Linked DNA regions of Homo sapiens. The protein of the gene in region 1 purifies or fractionates together with the protein of each later gene. This does not show direct contact. Each region holds a gene or a part of one and is shown on either strand. Other genes may lie near its edges.

Region 1 (5,058 bases):
TGAGTAAACACTAATGATTGACTATATTCTATTTGTTTTTCCTACTACTTTGTGCCAGGCATTGTTTATTTGTAATTTTTGTGGAACTGCAAGGTGAATGTTAGCTTCCCTGTGGAACATATGAGTGTAATGAGGCACAGAGCAGTTATGTAAGCCTGTCCAGCACCACACAGCTGATAAATGACTGAGCTGGAGTTGGAATCAAGATTAGTCTGACTCGTAAGCCCATGGTCTTTCCGCTGCCTTCCTAATGATAGTGTTGGGTGGGGAAAAGATTACATGGCCATTTGGCCTTGGACAAATTACTTAACATCTCCCAGGCTCAATTTCCTTATCTATGAAATGGAAAAAATGATGTACCTATATCACGGGGTTTTGGTGAAATTAAATGAGAAGCTGCTTAAAGCACTTAGCCCAGTGTCTAGCGTAGTTGGTATTGGCTAGGTGCTTATAAATTTCTGTGGAGGGAGAGAATCATCTCCATTAGGAGAAGAAGGAAGTCTTTGACTTGGATCTGGAGGTGTTCTGAGCAGAGGTCACAGAGCCAGCAAAGGCATGCAAGTGGAGACATGGCCTGTCCCCTGTCTCTGAAGTAGTAACATGTAGCTCCAGCTGGTAGGAACAAAAGGTGCCCCTGGACAGGAGGCTGGGAGTCATGTGGCGCCAGGTGTGTGGAGACAGCTGCAGACATCCAGGCAAGAGTCAGAGATGGCGGAGTTTCTGTCCAGGAAGATGTTGCTCTCCTCCTCCTGTTAGGCCTTCCTCGTCAGGATGACAATGAATGGCTTGTCCATGGCGTTTCAGAGCCACAGAGCACCTGGAGGTTCCCCAGCCTGGAGCCTGGCTGGTTCCTGCCTTTTGTACCAGTGTCTGTGTGGGTGCGTCTGGGGGCAGCTGGCAGCATGGGAGATGACTGTGGCTGGTGCTTATGGGGCTGGGCCCATTTCCTGGGGCCCTCTGAGGGGGATGGCCCAGAACGTGCAGAAGAAGAGCCTGTGGGAGGAAATACCAGGGTGACCACAGCTGGATGAGCAGGAATGGGCAGGAGGGTGAATTGGGCAGGCAGGAAGAGCAGGAGCTGTGAGCTCCTGTGGTGCCATTTTTCCCACACCTCGATCTTCCCCTGTGAGCTGCAAAAGGCCACAGCTGAGCTAGAATGGATGGTTCTGCCCTGTGGAGTTAGCTAAGGGCTTTCACTGCCGGATCCTGGTGCCCACTCTGAGGAGGACGCAGGGGAAAGACATTCAAATTCATACTGAGAGAAAATCTGCTGTGTGCCAGACACTTCCACATCCAGGATATCTCATTTAATCTTTATAACACTCTCGTGCAGCAGGGGAATATGATCTTATTTAAAGGAAGATCGAACTGAGGCTTAGAGACGTACAACAACTTGCCCAAGGTCACATTAAGTGGCAGAACCAGAAATTAGGACTCAGCCAATTTTGCTCGAAGTCTGATGTCTGTTTCCCTGTCCTATGGGCTAGCTCTCTCAAATCTTACTTTCCTGTTGACTGCAAAGAGGTGCATGGTAAGGGCAGCAGAAAGGGCTGTTTAAAATGAGCTTTGATGGGAAGAGGCTGCTTGGAAAAGGAAATGAGGGCTCCTGGGGAGAACCTGGAGTCTCAGCCCATGATCCCTACTCCGGCCCCCCAGAAGGGGCATGTGAGCCTGTGGAGGTCCCATCCCCCACCCCTCGTGACAGCAGCTTCTCCCCCAGCTGCTTTTTGGGCTTCCTCTTCCACCCTGCTGTTTCCTCTCTCCCTCCCTACAGTGGACTGGCGTGCACCTCATTGACCTCGGGTGGGGCTGTCTGACTCAGGCCCTGTGGGCTGGTCTAGAAGGTAGCAGCAAGGTTTCGAAATAGTCTGTATGGTTGGCCAAGGCCTTGTTTTTTCCATTCAAGCTTCTGTATCAACTGAGAGCTGGGGTCAGGGTTGACAGTCCCAAAGTAACAGCAGAATTGAGGACAGACACCAGAGGTAGAGTCCCTGAAGCCCAGGACCTCCTATCTGAGTCACTAACAGACACTAAGTTGGTGTGTGTGTGGGGTGGGGGGGCGGTGTCACTGCTCTCCTGTTGGCTTCTGGCTCAGGTCTTGTCCCCTGGACGCTTCTTGCTCAGGAGAAGGAAGGCCATCCTCCTCCCCCTCTAAGCAGGACTGCAGCTCTGCCATCATCAACACGCTTCCATCAGTGCTATTTACACAACCTTTCTTCAGAAGAGACACCAACTTAAAACCTGTTGGCTGCCTCTTCTGAGCCCCACCAACACTCCCACCCTCCCTGTTATTCCGGCTGCTGATCAGAGTCCCTGCTGCAGCATGAAGGCTGTCTTCATTCTGCCTGACCATTCAGGGTCCCCCACTCAGCTTTCTTCCCAAAGCAAAACAATCTATCCTGTATTTTCCTCTTTCCTAAGACAGACTGTCATCTGAGCCACCAGTCTCTTCTCAAATGTCCTGAGTTCCTCGTGGCTCCTGGCCAATGGCTTCTTTCTCTAGGAAGGCTCTCAGGGCAAGCCCCGAGTCATCTCGATCTCTCTGAGCATGTGCCCACGTCCCAGCTGGAGGAAGGACAGCAAACAGAGGATTCCCTGAGGGGCTGGCTGCTGCCCTGGGAGAGCTTTGCGCCTCCCAAAGAGGGTCTTGTCCTGTCTTGTGTGCTAAAGACCTGGCTCAGGGCTCTGCACCTGTGGTATCTGTTCCTGGCTGGCCTTTTCCTAGCAGGGTATCTCCCAGTGCTGGTGGAGGGCTTGTGGGGGAGGGGGGGTGGGCACTGTCACCATTGACCCTAGCTTGGTTCTTACTGTGCCCAGCCCTCTATCCTTTTCAGATCTGCTTAGTCTCAGAACAGTCACGTCCGAGAAGAGACTACTGAATCCATTTTCTCTGGACAAGTGCCAAAGTCACCTGCAGCCACAGCCAGCCTAGCCTGGGACTGGGGAGTGACTAGGGAGCCACTGGGGAACCGGGGCTGTTTCTGACATCTCTCGGGGGCAGCGTCCCTCTGCTGGGCTGTTTCTTGTTTTTTGCTGTTGCAGTGGTGGTGGCAGTCGGTCTTTTGGGGGTTTTGTTTGTTTGTTTCTAATCTGTCACTGCTTTGGGACATGCCATTTCTTGATTTTTACCCCAGAAGCATTCCTAGTGCAAAGTCTCAACAAGGTCAATAAAGTTATTATCAGGCTCCTTCGAAAGAGTAGGTTGGACTGTCAGCTAATAGTTAAGAGATAGCTAGTCAACCTCCCTATCTAACTTGGTTATTCAGTAACCAGTATCCGGTGGGGGGGAGGTGGGATTCTGAGAAGTGCCATCTCTTGCTAACAAGGTCTTTGAGGGTCATGGGACAGCCGCCCCATCTGGAGCAGCCGGGGGCCTTCCCCTCCATCCTTTGGTCCTTGGCCTACTTGCCCAGCCTGGCCCAGCCCCTGGGCTGCCATCCCCCCGTCACAGCCACCCTGGGGCCAGCTAGGCAAGGCCTGGCTGTGCATATTCTGTGCCCTGCTTCTCTTCTGGGACCTCTTGATTCACGAGGGAAGGACTGGTGAGAGGAGAAGTGAAACCTGCGGGTTCTAAACATGGAAGGAGTGCGTCAGCTGCCTTTCTGAAGCTAGCATGAGCTTGGCAGTCTTGGCCTCCGTCTAGCCTAGCCCTTAACCTGACCGAAGTTCCCAGTCTCCTGTGAACCACGGCACCTTGATCTTTCTCTTAGAACACCTGACAATGGGGAATGGATAGAGCACCAGACTCAGAGGAGGCCCAGCTCTGACTATGCCATGCCCAGCGAGTGGTGTGACTTTGAGCTCATCCCTCCATCCCTCTGGAGGCCAGGAAGGAAGTCCCAGAAAAGGCCAGTGCCAGGCCTAGTGTCACACAACACAGCTGAGGACCCCCCACCCGCCACCCTCAAGACTCATGACTCTCCTGCTATCTTGGGTGTCAGGGTTTCTACTGGCAGCATCATGGGGGACTCCAGGTGGTGGATTTCAGGGAGTTGGGGTCAGAGCTGGCGGGGACATCAGGCTACCACCTGGAGGAGGGCAGGGCTGGAATCTTGGAACCTACCAGGTCAGGATGCACGTGGGGACCCCTACTGACTTTCCTGTCTGCCCACGGGAGCAGGTGGGAGGGCCCCGGGGCTGGAGTCTCCCCTGTGTCCCACCGTAGGCTCCCCAAGAAGCCATAGGGCCCACCATGGAAGGCCAGAGCTCCAGGAGCTTCAGGGCATCCTTATGTTCATCTAGACCCAGCTATGCACAGCGGGAGGCGGGGTGGAGGGGGACAGGCTGGCAGCCACATCTCTACCTTCCAGGTAAATCCAGGGCCCGGAGCCTCCACTTCCCAGAAGAGTTTGGTTCAGCCCCTGACCCTACTCGGCTCCCCTAACAGAGCAGTGTGGGCCGCCTCCACCCCTCCAGTCCTTCTTCCTGGTCTGAACATTGGAAGCACACTGGCTGTCATCTAAGCGCCCTCTGGGCATCAGGAACAATTTCAGACTGGTTAGGTGCATCTCACTAACCCATCAATAGGTCTGAGAAAGGTGATAGACTCTGCTTTTCCAATGAGCAAAAAGATGTAAGGAATGAAACCAGCTTTTGCCCGATTCCCAAGTCCTTGCTGTTTTCTCTTATAGACATCAACTCCCTGACATCCACCACCTGGGTTCCCCCGTGATGCTGCTATGTCCCTGGGAGTGGCTGGCAGGATGAAAAAGGCCCAGGGAACTGGCCTTGAGCCTCAGTGAGGAAGCCTGTCTGCGCTTCCCACCAAAACCTACAGGGCACAGCCCTGGGTCTTCACCTGGCTTAGGCTGGCTGGGGTTCAGAGCTGCCGACCTGGGAACTCCCGCTCTCTTCAGTGGCTTCCCATCACCTTCAGAGATAGCCTAAATGCCACAGTTTGGCACCTGAGGCCCTGCGCCACGCCACCTGAGGCCCCTGCCCTTCCCAGCCAGCTCTGCTTCTCTGCTTGGCTCAGTTTCACCCTACAGATACCCCCACTGAGGCGGAGTTCCCCAAACAGGTAGTGTCATTTCACACCTCCGTGCCTTCGTGCACGCT
Region 2 (5,058 bases), on another chromosome or scaffold:
ATGGCTGTAAAATTATTAAAATTACAGAAGTGAAAGAAAACTTTAATTCTCCTCCCAACATAAAGCTACTAGCTAACACAACCGAATCTATGAGAATGAAAATGTAAAAGGAGAAAAAAAAGGCCTCTGAAAATTTTATTATATTTTACTGTCACATTCAAAATACTTAAAAAACTAAAGAACTCTGATGAATCAGTGAAGAAAAAAAAAAGATGAAAATCAAAGTGGACTGTGAAGCACTGGTTCACACTACATGGCCAAGTATAAAATGCTGATCATTAATGTATATTCACCATGACCTAATTTGAACATTATTCTTTTATTTAAATACTATTACGATTTTGGTTATCTTGAAAGGAGTTGTGCTTCAAAAAATTTGAAGTATTCAAGAGAAAGAAGAAATTAAGATACAGACCAATAGTAAAAAATGCAAAAATCTATATTCATATCTTCTTATAACATCACAGATTCTTTTTTTTTTTTTGGAGACCGAGTCTCGCTCTGTCACCCAGGCTGGAGTGCAGTGGCACGATCTTGGCTCACTGCAACCTCTGCCTCATGGGTTCAAGTGATTCTCCTGCTTCAGCCTCCCAAGCAGCTGGGACTACAGGCGCCCGCCACCACACCTGGCTAATTTTTTATATTTTTAGTGGAGACAGGGTTTTACCGTGTTAGCCAGGATCATCTTGATCTCCTGACCAAGTGATCCGCTCGTCTAGGCCTCCCAAAGTGCTGGGATTATAGGCGTGGGCCAACGCGCCCGGCCCGTAGATTCTTTTTAAAAACTCATTTTTGTTTTATATCTTATTTTAAAATAACTCTACTAAAAACTTTTTAAAATTAGTGATAATTTTAACAAAATTTATTCTAGAATAAATTACATATTTCTCCTACTTTTAAAAGGAGCACACAAAGAATGCAATCTTAGATGTGTAGGAATATTTGGCACCTATATACTAAATGACTCCACAAATATGAATGATTTAAGTTCTAAAGACTGCATGCCTCTAGTATAGCAAGATGGAAAAGAAGTGGCTTTGGAATCTCACTGTCTATGTGATCCTAGGCAAATACTTAACCTCTAAACTTCAGTTTCACTTGTAAATTAAATACCTTATGGGGTTATCATTAGGGGTAAATAAGACAATGCAGTGAAAATACTTGGCATATAGTAGCTACTCAATGAATAATACTTAAATTGTATCTTGGAGTGCACATGTTTTGCTCCTCCTGTGAATAAAATTAGAGAGTTTTAGTACATGGGCTTCATATCCCCAATTTGGGGTGTTTAGAAGGTTTTTGGATGGAAGCTATCTTTTTTAATAGCAGAGGTTACCAGATAAGTGTTCCCTGGATAAGAGCAGCTTGACTATGAATTAATTTTGGTAACATGCCTGAATTGTGTTTGAGAAGTATAGAAATTGACATTCTGTAAAGATGGTATCCCGCCTTCCATTAGAAGTCATTTCCACACTACTAAAAATGTTTTTTCCATTTATACATATGTAAAAAGGACCATAACTGTTCTTGGTATTATAAACATATACTTGGTGTTCAAAAGGAAAAGGCATTGTTAATGACATAATGAAGAAAAAAAGAAAAGCATAGCATTATTAGAGATTGAAAAAGAATAACAAAAAAAGTCCCCTAAAATTACGGCTATCAATTTTGGGTGTGTAGCCAAGGGCAAAATTAATTGGGTTATTTGCCAATATTATTTAAATAGATAAAGCAAGAAACAAAATGACACCGATCTGACCAAAAAATCACTATATGCAAAGATAAATGTTAGGCCATTTAGATGTCACTGATTTTGGATATATTCTAAACAGATATAAATTCTATCATACAAATATTAGCATCTAGTTTCCCCATACTGAGAAGGAGATTATATTTCACTCTAGTCTTCCCATGATCATACATCAAACATAAAAATGAAGAATGTAGCTATTTATCTCAATTATTTGAAATATATTGCATTTTATAGATGTAATATACAAAAAGCAATTTCATTCCCAACCAATCATTTCATAAATGTATGGCACTGGCCTCAAAGGAGAATAGATGAGCAAATGTGGATAGATCAGTACATTCTATCACCCCTGAAAAGACTATTTGAAATGCCTGCCCTTTTATGGAATGCCACTGGTGTTTTCACATTTTCATATACATTTTCTTTCACTTCGTTGGCAATTTGTACTGTTTCTGCTTACCTTGCCTGAACCTGAATCCCCTGTCACAGATGTATGGGGCACATCTCCTGTTGACTTTTTCTGTATTTCTGGGGTTGGACACCTTTTCCCCCTATCTTCTACAGATTTCTTGGCATCAGAAGTTTCATGTTCACTTTTACTTTGTCTTTTTACTCCTGTTATTTCTTTGCCCCTCTTTGCTGAGGTTTCTTTATCTTCTTTCTTGGCCTGTTCACTTTCTTTCTTCTCCATTTCTTCTTTTGCTTTTTGTTGCTTCTCTGTAATTTCATTTTCTTCAGCTTCTTGTTTCTTTTTGGCTTTTTGTTCTTGTTCTTCCTTCCTCAGTTTCTCTTTCTGTTCCTCTTGCTGCCTTTCCCGAAGTTCTTTTTCTTGTTTGTTTTTTTCCATTAGAAGAGCAGTTTCTGCATGAATACGAGCCTTTTCTTCATCTGTTAACATGAGAGTTGGAGAAAAAACTACTGGCTTGGTGGAACGATCAGGAATAACTTTTCCACTCTGAGGAGATTGTTGCTCATGGTTTGTACTTTCAGATTTTATTCTATGCTCTTCAGGCAATTTGACTGCTGGTTTTTTAGTACGATCAATCTAGAGCAACAAAACCAGAGCAAAACATTTTTGTCAAAAATCAGGAAATAACCTCAGTTCTTGAGATCAAGTTGTGATAAAAGAAGTGTCACTTTGTGGAGACAACATCTATCAGCACATCTATTTGTTAATTACTCAGTGTCAAGATTTCTCATAAAACAGAACTTGAATGGTAGATATTCAAACATCACTGGAACTTACATCCTCTTGATTCAACACTTTCAATTCTTCCTGAGTGTTTTGTATACAAAAGAGTTAAAAATGTCTTTATTCTAAAACATAAAACCTAGACCTGGGCATACTTAGACTTAAGTTCCACTTCCAGGTATCCAAATGCCTACCCAATATTTCCATTTGAGTGTCAACACATGTATCTCAAACCCCATACAGCCAAAACGGATTCACGATTCCCCCCACCCCGACAAACATGGTCCTAATCTCATGGATGTAACCACTCTCACTCTCCCAATAGTTGCACAAATCAAAAACCTGAGTCCCATGATATGTTCTTCCCATATCCTTCTGCACGCTGTTAATTTTCCTCCTATATCTGTCCCTCCATCTCTTCTACCACAGGCTAAGACCATGTCAACCTCCTCTCTCACCAGGACTACAGCATAGCTTTCAACTAGTTGCCCATCTCTTCTCTTGCCCCCGCCCCCCAATCTGTTTCTCCACATTATAGCCAGAGGACTCATTTTAAAACAAATTTGATTTGCTACCCACTATGCTCTCAGTACACCTAAAATCTTTACCATAGTCTGTAATGCCCTGTATGGTCTTACATCTGCCTACCTCTCCAGTCATATGGCTGTGTATACCAGCTATACTTGCCTTAAAAAAAAAATTATTCCAAGATGCCATGCTCCTTCCCAACTTAGGTCTATCAGCTGTTCATCTAGATAATGCCCACATTAGGTCTTGGCTTACACATCTCTCCCTCTGAAAAGACTTCCCTGGTTCCTAGAACTAGCCAAGTCCCCTGATACATGCTCTTATAATACTTTATTCTTCTCTACCGGAATTCTGATCAAATAACTATAATTACTTATTTAAAATTTTTCTTCCCTCCTAGAATATAAGCTCTAAAAGGATAAAGACTGTGCCTGGCACAGTTAGTAACTATGTTACTGAGGGAACAAATGCAATCTTCCCTAAAAACTTTTACATGAGGTAAAATACTAACTAGTTTCCTTCAGGTTGTGTAATAAACTACCTAAGTTCCTGATTTAATGAGTTAAATGTTTATTACCTCAATTTAACAGCATGTTAACACTAGAGAAGTGACCCTAACATCATTTCTTGAGAATACTGTGTACTGAAAGAAAAATAAAAACTTATAAGAACATGTGCCAATAACAATCTACATAGTGTTCTTACAAAACGAATTTATGTTTTTCTACTAGAAAATAAAAGAAGTTGCCAGGCGCAGTGACTCACGCCTGTAATACCAGCACTTTGGGAGGCCGAGCCGGATAGATCACTTGAGGCCAGGAGTTCGAGACCAGCCTGGGCAACATGGCAAAACCCCATCTCTACAAAAAAAATACAAAAATTAGCTGGGCGTGGTGGCATGTGCCTATAATCCCAGCTACTCAGGAGGCTGAGGTGGGAGGATTGCTTGAACCCAGGAAGTCGAGGCTGCAGTGAGCTGTGATCACGCCACTGCACTCCAGCCTGGGTGAGAGAGTGAGACCGTTTTCAAAAAAAAAAGAAAAGAAAAAGAAAACGAGGTTAGTGTAGAAAAAATAATTTTTTTCCTGTTCACTTCTCTTTCTGCCTCTTAAAAAAAATCCTTTGTCTTTTTTTTTGCATGTATTTGAGAATAAAGTAGGAAGAACCACTATGGGGATGAGGTTAACAATAAGAGGTGGAACAGAAACAAAAATAAATGTTGTTTCCATTTACATTTTGGTGGCTTGATCTATTTTTCCCTAATTTTAAAAGTATAGTTATGATCATGTTACTCTCAAGTTTAAAATTCTTTAATGGTTCCTTGTGCCTACAGGACAAAATTCAAATTTGATCCAAGTCTCTCTTGATGACTCTTGTCCATCCTTCTAATCTTATCTACTATCATAACTTCCTCTCTCCAACAGAGACTAGCGCCCACATATGCCAAAACTGTTCACTGGCCCCAGAGCATGCCCTATGCCTTTGGTCATAGAATTTTCTACTTGTTTCTTCTATCCTCCAATCCTACTCTTAAAGCCCAGATAAAATACTGTCTCCTCCATGAAGACGTCCTTGATCTTCTCAG
Region 3 (4,436 bases), on another chromosome or scaffold:
TCTTGGCCTCCCAAAGTACTGGGATTATAGGCATGAGCCACTGCTCCTGGCCCACATTTAAAAAATTATTGTTGTATGAAATTTCAGATATGTACAGAAGAGCAAGTGTAGAGGCTAAGTACTAGAGATTGGAATGGGTTATGAGTTATTCTCTCAGTTTCAAATCCATCCCTTAATTCTCATCTTTGAGATTTGGGGCTTTGTCAGGTGCATGCTCAATAGACTGTGCCGAAAGCATGTGCTACAGGGAGATAGAAGGCTAGAGAGGGAACAAGGGGCTTCTCCCTCCTGTTTTACTTTCTGTTGCTACCAACACAACCCCAGTAGTGGTTCTTCACTCAGTAAGTAGCAAATGATTCCCAGCAGCAGTAGTTGGCTCAATTTACCAGTTTTCTATTCCCTAGGCTCCCAGAGGCATCCTCATTGTGCCCTCTTAGAGATTCAAGCACCAGCTACCTGCCATGCTCTTCTCCAAAGTCTAAGTCCCAGAGCCATGGATTTTCTGACCTGTTGTTCAATTCCTGAAATCTTTTCTGAATACCTGAGGCAAAAACACTGATTAGGCTGTGTCCCCCTGTTAGCTTTGTGGGGTCTTTCCTCAAATCCTCAGATACCAGTGACCAAACCCCTCAGATGTCTGGATCCAAATTCTGTGGTGCTGCTCCCTCAAGATTCTAAATTCCAGGAACCTCTTCTCTTTGTCCCCACATCCTTAGCTGATGTGACTGCTTTCTGCAATTACTACCTCTGTGATACATTCCTTTGGCATCTTATAGCATAAAGATGTAAATTACACCAATTCTTTTCATATCCGTCTGCTATTTTACACGCAGGTTATCTTAACTTTTGGATCTTATTTTCTTTCATCTTATCCCTTTCAATAAAGGCTAAATTATACATATGTATCAGTCCTTATGAAATGTAAAAGATCTAAACTAATTCACCTTTATCATGCTCATGTTTGTTCCACTTTATCCAAAGGGCAGTGTTATAGAGAGACCGAGAGATAGAAGATGAGAAACTCCCACATCCTTCAGGATCTGGGGAAAATTAGCTTCTAGGAAGCTAAATCTCCTCATCTGTAATAATTCATATAGAGTTGTTGTAAATATCCAGGAAAGCATTTATATGGAAGCATTTAGCAATCGTAAGCGCAGTGTAAATTAGTTCCATTACCATTACCAAATATGACTAGATGGTAGAAGGAAAAGATGATGAAACAAGAGGCGAAAAGAAGAAAAACAACCGAAAAAAGTATTCTAGAGTTTCTCTACCCACTCAGAAATAGAATAATATATAGTTTTTTTAAAATGTGGATCTCTACTTTTTCCCATTGCATTCAACTCGAATCCTCAGCCGATCTAGCACAGATCCTTTTTGCTAATGAGACAGAAACCATTTATTAACAGACAGCAAATACTGTTTATTGCAGACTTTCCAGCTGACTCATGTGAAAAAGGCACTATGAAAATTAATGAATCTAGATAATTTCTCTAAATGATTTATGTTAAAATATACAACATTCTTACATAACATCTGTTTTATATATGTGAAATAATATAACATTTAATGACAAAAATTGTGTTTCCAAAAATAACATTTGTTGAAGGTTAGGTATCTTTCTTTTCTCTATGTGGAATCTTTCACAGGATTAAAATATGTGTAAATTAAGTGCTTCTTATTACCAGAAATACTTGACACAGATAAACACATAAAATGGCCCCACTTCCTTTTAACTACTCATATCAACATTCAGAACTGAGGCTTTCATTAAGCAAAATACTGTAATGCACACCAATGCAGACTACTTCCTTTGCTAGATTTTGAGAAGACATGACCTCTTTCGCATTTGTGCTTTCTCATATATAAGAACACAGTATACATAATAAGCAGAATATAAACTAAATCAAAATACAAGCTATACAAGGAGTTGCAATCAACAGAGCCATGACAAACTCTCTTGAGAATGCTCCATAGATTTATATTTGCATGTCCAAGGTATGGCTGTACTTTACAGTTCATTCAAATGTTTTAATTTTTTTTTAAACTGTTGGCATTAAGAACTTTAAATAAATCTAAATATTCTTCCATTGAGTATGTCAGAGAAGAGACTTAAGTAAGCAGAGGCTAGCCTACAGTGAGCTATGCCCTGAATGACAGACACCATATTCACAGGCAAAATCGAAACTGCTTAGATTTTGAATCATGGACAACATTGTTGCTTTGTTGCAGTGAATAACTCCACCACTATCAAAACAATTCCTGTTTATACCCTGGGATGGGGATAAAATAATTAGTCTAATTAAGGAAACTTCACCTTGGTAAAGTAAGAAAAATATTTTCCAAGGTCAAAAAATTCAGTTTAAATTTTTTCAGTTTTAATAAAAATAATGGGCCTAGAAGCAAATCCTGTGCTCACTCAGGTTTGCATGGGTTTTTTTTTATGGTGATAAATTACATCAAGAAAAATGAATCTGACATTCCCTTCAAGGCTTCTTAAAACAAAGCATGTTGGAATAATGCCAAAAACAATGGAGTTTAAATACAAACAAACAAATTAGTGACTGCTTCCTTCATCAAAAGATTCCACTCCTGAATCACTAGCGGCAGCACTGATTTTTTCCTGTCGTCTTCTCATAATTTCTTGTAACTCGGAGCTGCCACTGCTATCCTGAAAGATAAACAGTTCAGACAAGATAGTTACTGACTTGTGCAGGCTGCAGGTCATATCATGAAATGGCTCAGGATAAAATTCTACTGTGGTTTTCTTCTAGTATCTCTTTAGGAAAGCTAACAGCTCTACTTTTTAAGTGAAGCTTCTGCACTTCACTAATATATCACATTAATAATTTTTCATTTTGTAAAGTCTGTTAAGGCAATTCACTCACCAGGCCTTTCATTTGAACATGATAAAGATAAATCAATAATGTATGTATAGTACTCTAGGTTTGCTGAGAGAAAGAGGAAATGTGTACAATAAGCATAATAACATGGTAAATTATCAAAGGACTCTTTTGGGCTCAAACAAGATACTGATCTGCCTTTAGAAGATTTTAACTCAGGCCAGAGTGGGCTCAGAATTCACCCAGTTTCCCCTCCATATAGTTCTGACCCTCCGACCATGCTGGCTTTTCTCCTTTCCCATCAACAGAAGTCTCTGGCAACACAGGCAAATAATCTAAAAGATTAACTAGATCCAAGGAAAGGGTGAGGTGGTAGAAGGTGGCTGAGGAACATGAAGAACCTCAGGTAGTCAGCCTCTGCCTCAGTTCCCATGCAGAGAATAGGAAGAGAACAAGAAGCAAGAGACCATCCTGAAGTGGGTGGTGACAGCAAATGACAATAATGATAGGCAGGTGTGGGATGAAGGAATTCAGAATTTTAGGAATATGGCATTTTCTAACATACCTTGAAGAAGTAATTATATACTCTCAACAAAATTAAATATAGTGGTAATAAAACTGCTTGAGAAAAATATATAATCCTTATTAATATTCAACATATGGAAAGCAATCAAATCAAACTTTAATATGGAGCCTTCAAGATCAATGTTGTAGGGAAAACCTCCAAGGGAAATATGGTTTCTCTTGATTCAGAATGGCTACGGGGTGATACGCATGAAGTGATTTTACCCTGAATTATTTAACTGTTGAATTTATAGAATATACCTGCTAGAGATGATTATGGATCAATTTCATGCCAAAGCCTACATTCTTTCATTTGAGTCCAAGTATAATTTTCATGAAACTATTAAGAGCTGTGAGATGTAACAGTTGGAAACTACTACCCGTATATAGCACATTTTAAGTCTAAAATAGGATATTGGAAGCTTAAGTATAAAGCAATCTAGAAAACATGACTCTCCTGCTTTCATACAGACCATTGTGATTAAATACTTTTCCAGGCTCTCTATTTTCAGTGATCTCTACCTAATGTATCTTTCCCGATTATTGAGATGTATTACTAGACCTAACACACACAGCCAGGGTTTTACAATCTTATAACCTATACGTTATTAGAATCTCCAAAAAAAAAAAAATATTAAGAATAGGCAAGGATTCTGGCCTCTTAAGGCTCTTACTCACTCAGAAGCTAATTTCCATTGTTATGTCAAAATTAAATTTCCTATAGAATTAGTCAATACATATAAAATGAGAACATTATGCTTTTTGTCAAGTTTCCAAAAGTATGTGCTCAAGCTTCACATCATATGAGCATTTATAACAAATTAACCTTCTGGAAACTGTCATTGATGATCTCAGTGACAAATTTACAAAAGCAGAGTTAAATTTAATTCAGCTCTGTTAAGAAAGGGAAATTGGCCAATATGGACATAAATAGTTGTTTCCAGAGCTTTCAATTTGCAGAAAAACACCACCTTAGGTTGACAAGTCATACCTCCAATGCAGCTTTTTGTACAGTGATTTGGCTATAGA
Region 4 (5,058 bases), on another chromosome or scaffold:
CAGGCTCCGCTTCCTGCTCAGACCCTGCCTTACCACAGTCTCCGCCCCCTGCCTAGGCCCCGCCTCTCCCCCCCCACCGCGGTCCCCGCCAGAGTCCACCTCCACTCTGTTTTATCTTCCAACTCCGCCCCTCCTCCACCCCCACACCGCGGCATCTCACCCAGCGTCTTGAGCAGAAGTGTGCAGTTGAGGGTGAGGATGAGCGGCGTCAGGTACTGCAAGCTCACCACGGTCACATAGCAGTAGACTCGGACCACCTGTGGGCAGGTAGCAGGGGTGGCTGCAGCAGGAGGCCTTCTGGTTTGGGACGACTCCACGCCCAAAGGACCAGGAACCCCACCCTGAGCCCCAGGTTCCCTCTGGCCTAGGTCATCGGGGCGTCCATACCCTCTGCTGGATTTCACGGGCTTCGATGCGGCCAGCCTCCCTTCGCAGCTGCTCCACCCGGGCCTTGGCCAGGCACAGGTAGGCCTGCAGGTGGGGCCGGGTCACCGCCAGCCGCAGCAGGCACAGCACCACCAGCAACCAGAGGCGCCCAGAGTCGAAGGCAGAATCGGACAGCCTGTGCGGAGAGGGCCGGGGGCAAGGGACTAAGAAGGTCGCCCCCGACCCCCCAGGATCTTCCCCAGGCTCCTCCCTGAATCTCAGAGGCTAGGGCACCCAGGGGAGCCCCAGCTACCTCCTAGCCCCACCCAATACGCACAGGGAGAAACGCGTCTCCCCAAACGGCGGCTGGTGCAGGAAGTCCCGTGCAATGGGCTTTGTCCAGAGCCACAGGATGAACAGGGGAGACAGGAAGCTGGTGTGCAGGAGGAACCTGGGGGGTGAGGGCAGGAGGGAGTGAGGCCTGGGTACCCCCTCTCCTCGAGTCTCTCCCTTAAGCTCCCTAGTCCCCCCACCCACCAAGCGACCCACTTAACTGCAGCATGGGTCTGTCCTCCGACATGGTCAGTGCGTCCCGGTGGGTCTGGGCCAGCCGCAGGCCTGGGAAGGTGAGGAAGGCACCCAGCACAGAGCCCACCACTGCCAGTCCCACGCGGATAGCCAGCTTGGCCACAGGAAGCCTAGGAGAACACCAGGTCACGAGCCTGCCTGGGGGACCCTGGGAGGGTCCCAGCCTGCCCTTGCCTCCCTCCCCCATTCCCAGGACTCACGCCCAGTCCCAGCCCTGCTTCTTCAGAAGTGGCTCTAAGTTCTGGGTCATGCTGGCCAGACCTGGGGACGATAAGAAGAGGACCGAGTAGAGTGAATTCCTAGGGTCTCTAAGGCCACTCTGTTCCCTAACCCCCCATCCCTCAGGCATCCGTTTGCTTCCCAAGTAGGAATGAACAAGGGTCTGCCAGGCCCTGAGCCAGGCACAAGGACAATTTTGTGCTCTAGTTACACAGTACTTTTTACAAGAAACAAGATTGGAGTGGTGGTTCACGCCTGTAATCCCAGCACTTTGGGAGGCTGAGGCAGGCGGATCATCTGAGATCAGGAGTTTCAGACCAGCCTGGCCAATGCAGTGAAACCCCCGTCTCTACTAAAAATACAAAAATTAGCCAGGTGTGGTGGCAGGTGCCTGTAATCCCAGCTACTTGAGAGGCTGAGGCAGGAGAATCGCTTGAACATGGGGAGCGGAGGTTGCAGTGAGCTGAGACCGCACCATTGCACTCCAGCCTTGGGGACAAGAGTGAAACTCAGTCTCAAAGAAAACGAAACAGAATGCACCAGGCAGACACTCCTGATTGGGCTGGGAACATTCAGGGGTATCTGTTGAGCCTGAGCTCCCTAGGTTATAGAAGGAATCTAGAGGGGGATGAAGGACTCCTGCAGGAGAAAACCAAAGTCCTCCTGGAGGAAGGAATCCTCAATTCAGGACCCAAGATTTTTCAAAAATTAAGAGCAGGGCTGGGTGCAGTGGCTTGCACCTGTAAGTCTCAGCACTTTGGGAGGCCAAGGCGGGTGGATCGTTTGAGCTCACAAGTTTGAGACCAGCCTGGGCAACATGGCAAAACCCCCATCTCTACAAAAAATACAAAACCAGGGGTGGTGGTGCACGCCTATAGTCCCAGCTACTGTGAAGGCTGAGGTGGGAAGGATGGGTTGAGCCCAGGATGTGGAAGTTGCAGTGAGCTGAGATCATGCCACTGCACTCCAGCACAGAGCAAGACCTTGTCAAAAAAAAAAAAAAAAAGGAGCAAATTCATATGAGCTCACAGGCAAAATCACCAAATGCATAAGGAAACAAATCACCATAAAGGAGAGTTAACAGAAAAACAACAGTCAAGTTTAGGCCTCAAAGACTTCAGAAATTGGTGCTGTCAATTATGTGTCAAATGACTAAGGAAATGAAAGCTGTAATCACAGAACAAGTGACATGAGAATTCCTTCAGATGACTGGGTAGAGTTGCAAAGGAACCAAATTAAACTCTTCCAAAGGAAAACTGTAAGTATTGAAATAATAGGTTGTTAAACAGCACATTAGGAACAGCCAAAGGAGGAAGTGATGAACTGGAAGACAGATCTGAAGAAATCACTCAGATTCCAACTCAGAAAAACAAGTAGGTGAGAAATATGAAGAGAGGCTAAGAGATAAGGAAGACAGAACAGAGAGCCCAACGCAAATCAAATCAGAGCCCCAGAGGGAGGGAAGAGAAGGAATGAAGAATAAAAGGAATTACTGGAAGAGAATGGTTGAGAAGTTTGCAGAATGAAAGACAGACACAAAGTATATCAAACCATGTAAATAAAAAGAAATCCATACCTAGACATAATGGAGTGAAACTGCAGAACACCAAAAACAAAAAAATTACAAAGCAGCCAGGGAGTTAAGACAGATCACCTACAAAGGAACAACAATTAGGCTGACAGCCAATGTCAACTGCAACAACAGAAAAGGAACAAATAGAAAGCAAAAAAGTAAGATGGTAGAAACAAAGTCAAATATGTCAGTAATCACAATAAATGTAAGTAGACTAAACTTTAAAGTTAAATGACAAAGACTGTCAGACTACATTGAAAATATCCAGCTACATGTTTTTTAAAGGATGACATACCTTGACATAAAGTCACTGGAAGACTGAAAGTAAAGGGATGTTAAAAAGATACAGCAAATACTAATCAAAAGAAAGCAAGCTAGAAAGGCTATACTACTACCAGCCAAACTAGACTAAGAAGTAGTATTAGAATAGGCCAGGCGCGGTGGCTCACACCTGTAATCTCAGCACTTTGGGAGGCCAAGACGGGCAGATCACAAAGTCAGGAGTTCGAGACGAGCCTGGCCAACATGGTGAAACCCTGGCTCTACTAAAAATCCAAAAAATAGCTGGGCATGGTGGCGGGTAATACCAGCTACTTGGGAGGCTGAGGCAGGAGAATCGCTTGAACCCAGGAGGTGGAGGTTGCAGTGAGCCGAGATTGCGCCACTGCACTCCAGCCTGGCCAACGAGAGCAAAACTCTGTCTCAAAAAAAAAAAAAGTAGTATTAGAAGACAGAAGGGTTCCATACATCATGATAAAATGGCTGATTCACCAGGAAAATGTAACAGTTCTAAATCTGTGAATAGAACTAATCTGTGAATTGTGAATAGGCTGCAAAATATATAAAGAAAACACTGACAGAATTGATAGGGAAATTGAGAGCTCTCTTGTCCCAGAGGGAGATTAACTTCTGCTGACTGATAAGTCACAGACAAAAGGTTAGGCAAGATGGAGATTTGAATTTATTAAACTCATAGAGCCAGGGAATATGTCCTTCAATTAGAACATGTGAAAAAAGGCAAAACAACAAAAACAGAATATGTCCTTCAAGAAAACAAGGAATAGTCACAAAATGTGATCACATTCCAGGCCATAGGGCAAATCTTACCAAATTTTAAAGAAATTATTTCAAATAGACCATCTGTGCAATTGAGCTAGAAATAAATATGTATTTTTTAAAGATCTATGTTTGAAAAATTTAAAAATATTTAATAATCCATAGGTCAAAGCATAGCAAGACCCCATCTCTACAGAAATCAGAAGGGAAATGTTAAAACACCCCAAACAGAATAATAAAAAATATCAGTCAAAACTTGGGTAAACTGCCAGGTGTGATGGCTCACACCTGTAATCCCAGCACTTTGAGAGGCCGAGGTGGGTGGATCACCTGAGGTTAGGAGTTTGAGACCAGCCTGGCCAACATGGTAAAACCCCGTCTCTACTAAAAATACAAAAATTAGCCAGGCGTGGTGGCGTGCACCTGTAATCCCAGCTACTCAGGAGGCTGAGGCAGAAGAATTGCTTGAACCCAGGAGGCAGAGGTTGTAGTGAGCTGAGATTGCACAGTTGCACTCCAGCCTGGGTGACAAGAGCAAAACTCCATCTCAAAACAAAAACAAAAACAAAAAAAAACTTAGGTGAACAAAAGTGAGACCTGGTAAAATATATATAGCATTAAATGCTATATATGCTATAAAATTAGAAAAGATTGAAAATTTATGAGCCAAGTAGCTAACTGAGAAATTGGAAACAAGAAAAGGAGGTACGCCAGTACTGTTCTCAAATCCAGAGGTCCTAGCCACACCAAAGGGGAAGGATCAGACAGAACAAAAGAAAACCAAAAAGAATCTGCAATTCAATAAAAATATAATTGTTTAGCAAGGTTAGTCCGTGGAGACACTCAAATTTGACCCCTATATGATAACACAAAAATTAATGTCACTGTCCATCAGCAACAGTGAGTAGTTTAGGAGCTTATATGAAATGTAAAAGTTGAAATATTTTATTTATTGATTTTTAAGATGGAGTCTTGCTCTTGTCGCCCAGGCTAGAGTGCAATGGCGTGATTTCGGCTCACTGCAACCTCTGCCTCCGGGGTTCAAGTGATTCTCCTGCCTCAGCCTCCCGAGTAGCTGGGATTACAGGTGCATGCCACCTTGCCCAGCTTTTTTTTTTTTTTTTTTTTTAGACGGAGTCTCGCTCTGTTGCCCAGGCTGGAGTGCAGTGGCGCGATCTTGGCTCACTGCAAGCTCCACCTCCCGGGTTCACGCCATTCTCCTGCCTCAGCCTCCCCAGTAGCTGGGACTACAGGCG

Evidence for each region. The genes of interacting proteins can lie anywhere in the genome.
Region 2: the proteins of SLC37A2 (region 1) and USP8 purify together in Homo sapiens (affinity purification with mass spectrometry; one large-scale study listed by BioGRID and IntAct). This does not show direct contact.
Region 3: the proteins of SLC37A2 (region 1) and EPS8 purify together in Homo sapiens (affinity purification with mass spectrometry; one large-scale study listed by BioGRID and IntAct). This does not show direct contact.
Region 4: the proteins of SLC37A2 (region 1) and TMEM161A purify together in Homo sapiens (affinity purification with mass spectrometry; one large-scale study listed by BioGRID and IntAct). This does not show direct contact.

The regions. Positions count from the first base shown.
Region 1 is NC_000011.10:125,069,090-125,074,147, forward strand, and holds part of SLC37A2 (glucose-6-phosphate exchanger SLC37A2), read left to right. Parts: intron 1-5,058. UniProt on the Homo sapiens protein: Inorganic phosphate and glucose-6-phosphate antiporter. May transport cytoplasmic glucose-6-phosphate into the lumen of the endoplasmic reticulum and translocate inorganic phosphate into the opposite direction. Independent of a lumenal glucose-6-phosphatase.
Region 2 is NC_000015.10:50,479,221-50,484,278, reverse strand, and holds part of USP8 (ubiquitin carboxyl-terminal hydrolase 8), read right to left. Parts: intron 2,799-5,058; coding exon 2,214-2,798; intron 5-2,213; coding exon 1-4. UniProt on the Homo sapiens protein: Hydrolase that can remove conjugated ubiquitin from proteins and therefore plays an important regulatory role at the level of protein turnover by preventing degradation. Converts both 'Lys-48' an 'Lys-63'-linked ubiquitin chains.
Region 3 is NC_000012.12:15,618,760-15,623,195, forward strand, and holds the end of EPS8 (epidermal growth factor receptor kinase substrate 8), read right to left. Parts: coding exon 4,399-4,436; intron 2,672-4,398; coding exon 2,558-2,671; 3' UTR 1,375-2,557; downstream 1-1,374. UniProt on the Homo sapiens protein: Signaling adapter that controls various cellular protrusions by regulating actin cytoskeleton dynamics and architecture. Depending on its association with other signal transducers, can regulate different processes.
Region 4 is NC_000019.10:19,120,605-19,125,662, forward strand, and holds part of TMEM161A (transmembrane protein 161A isoform 1 precursor), read right to left. Parts: intron 1,216-5,058; coding exon 1,155-1,215; intron 1,065-1,154; coding exon 921-1,064; intron 818-920; coding exon 704-817; intron 563-703; coding exon 388-562; intron 258-387; coding exon 161-257; intron 1-160. UniProt on the Homo sapiens protein: May play a role in protection against oxidative stress. Overexpression leads to reduced levels of oxidant-induced DNA damage and apoptosis.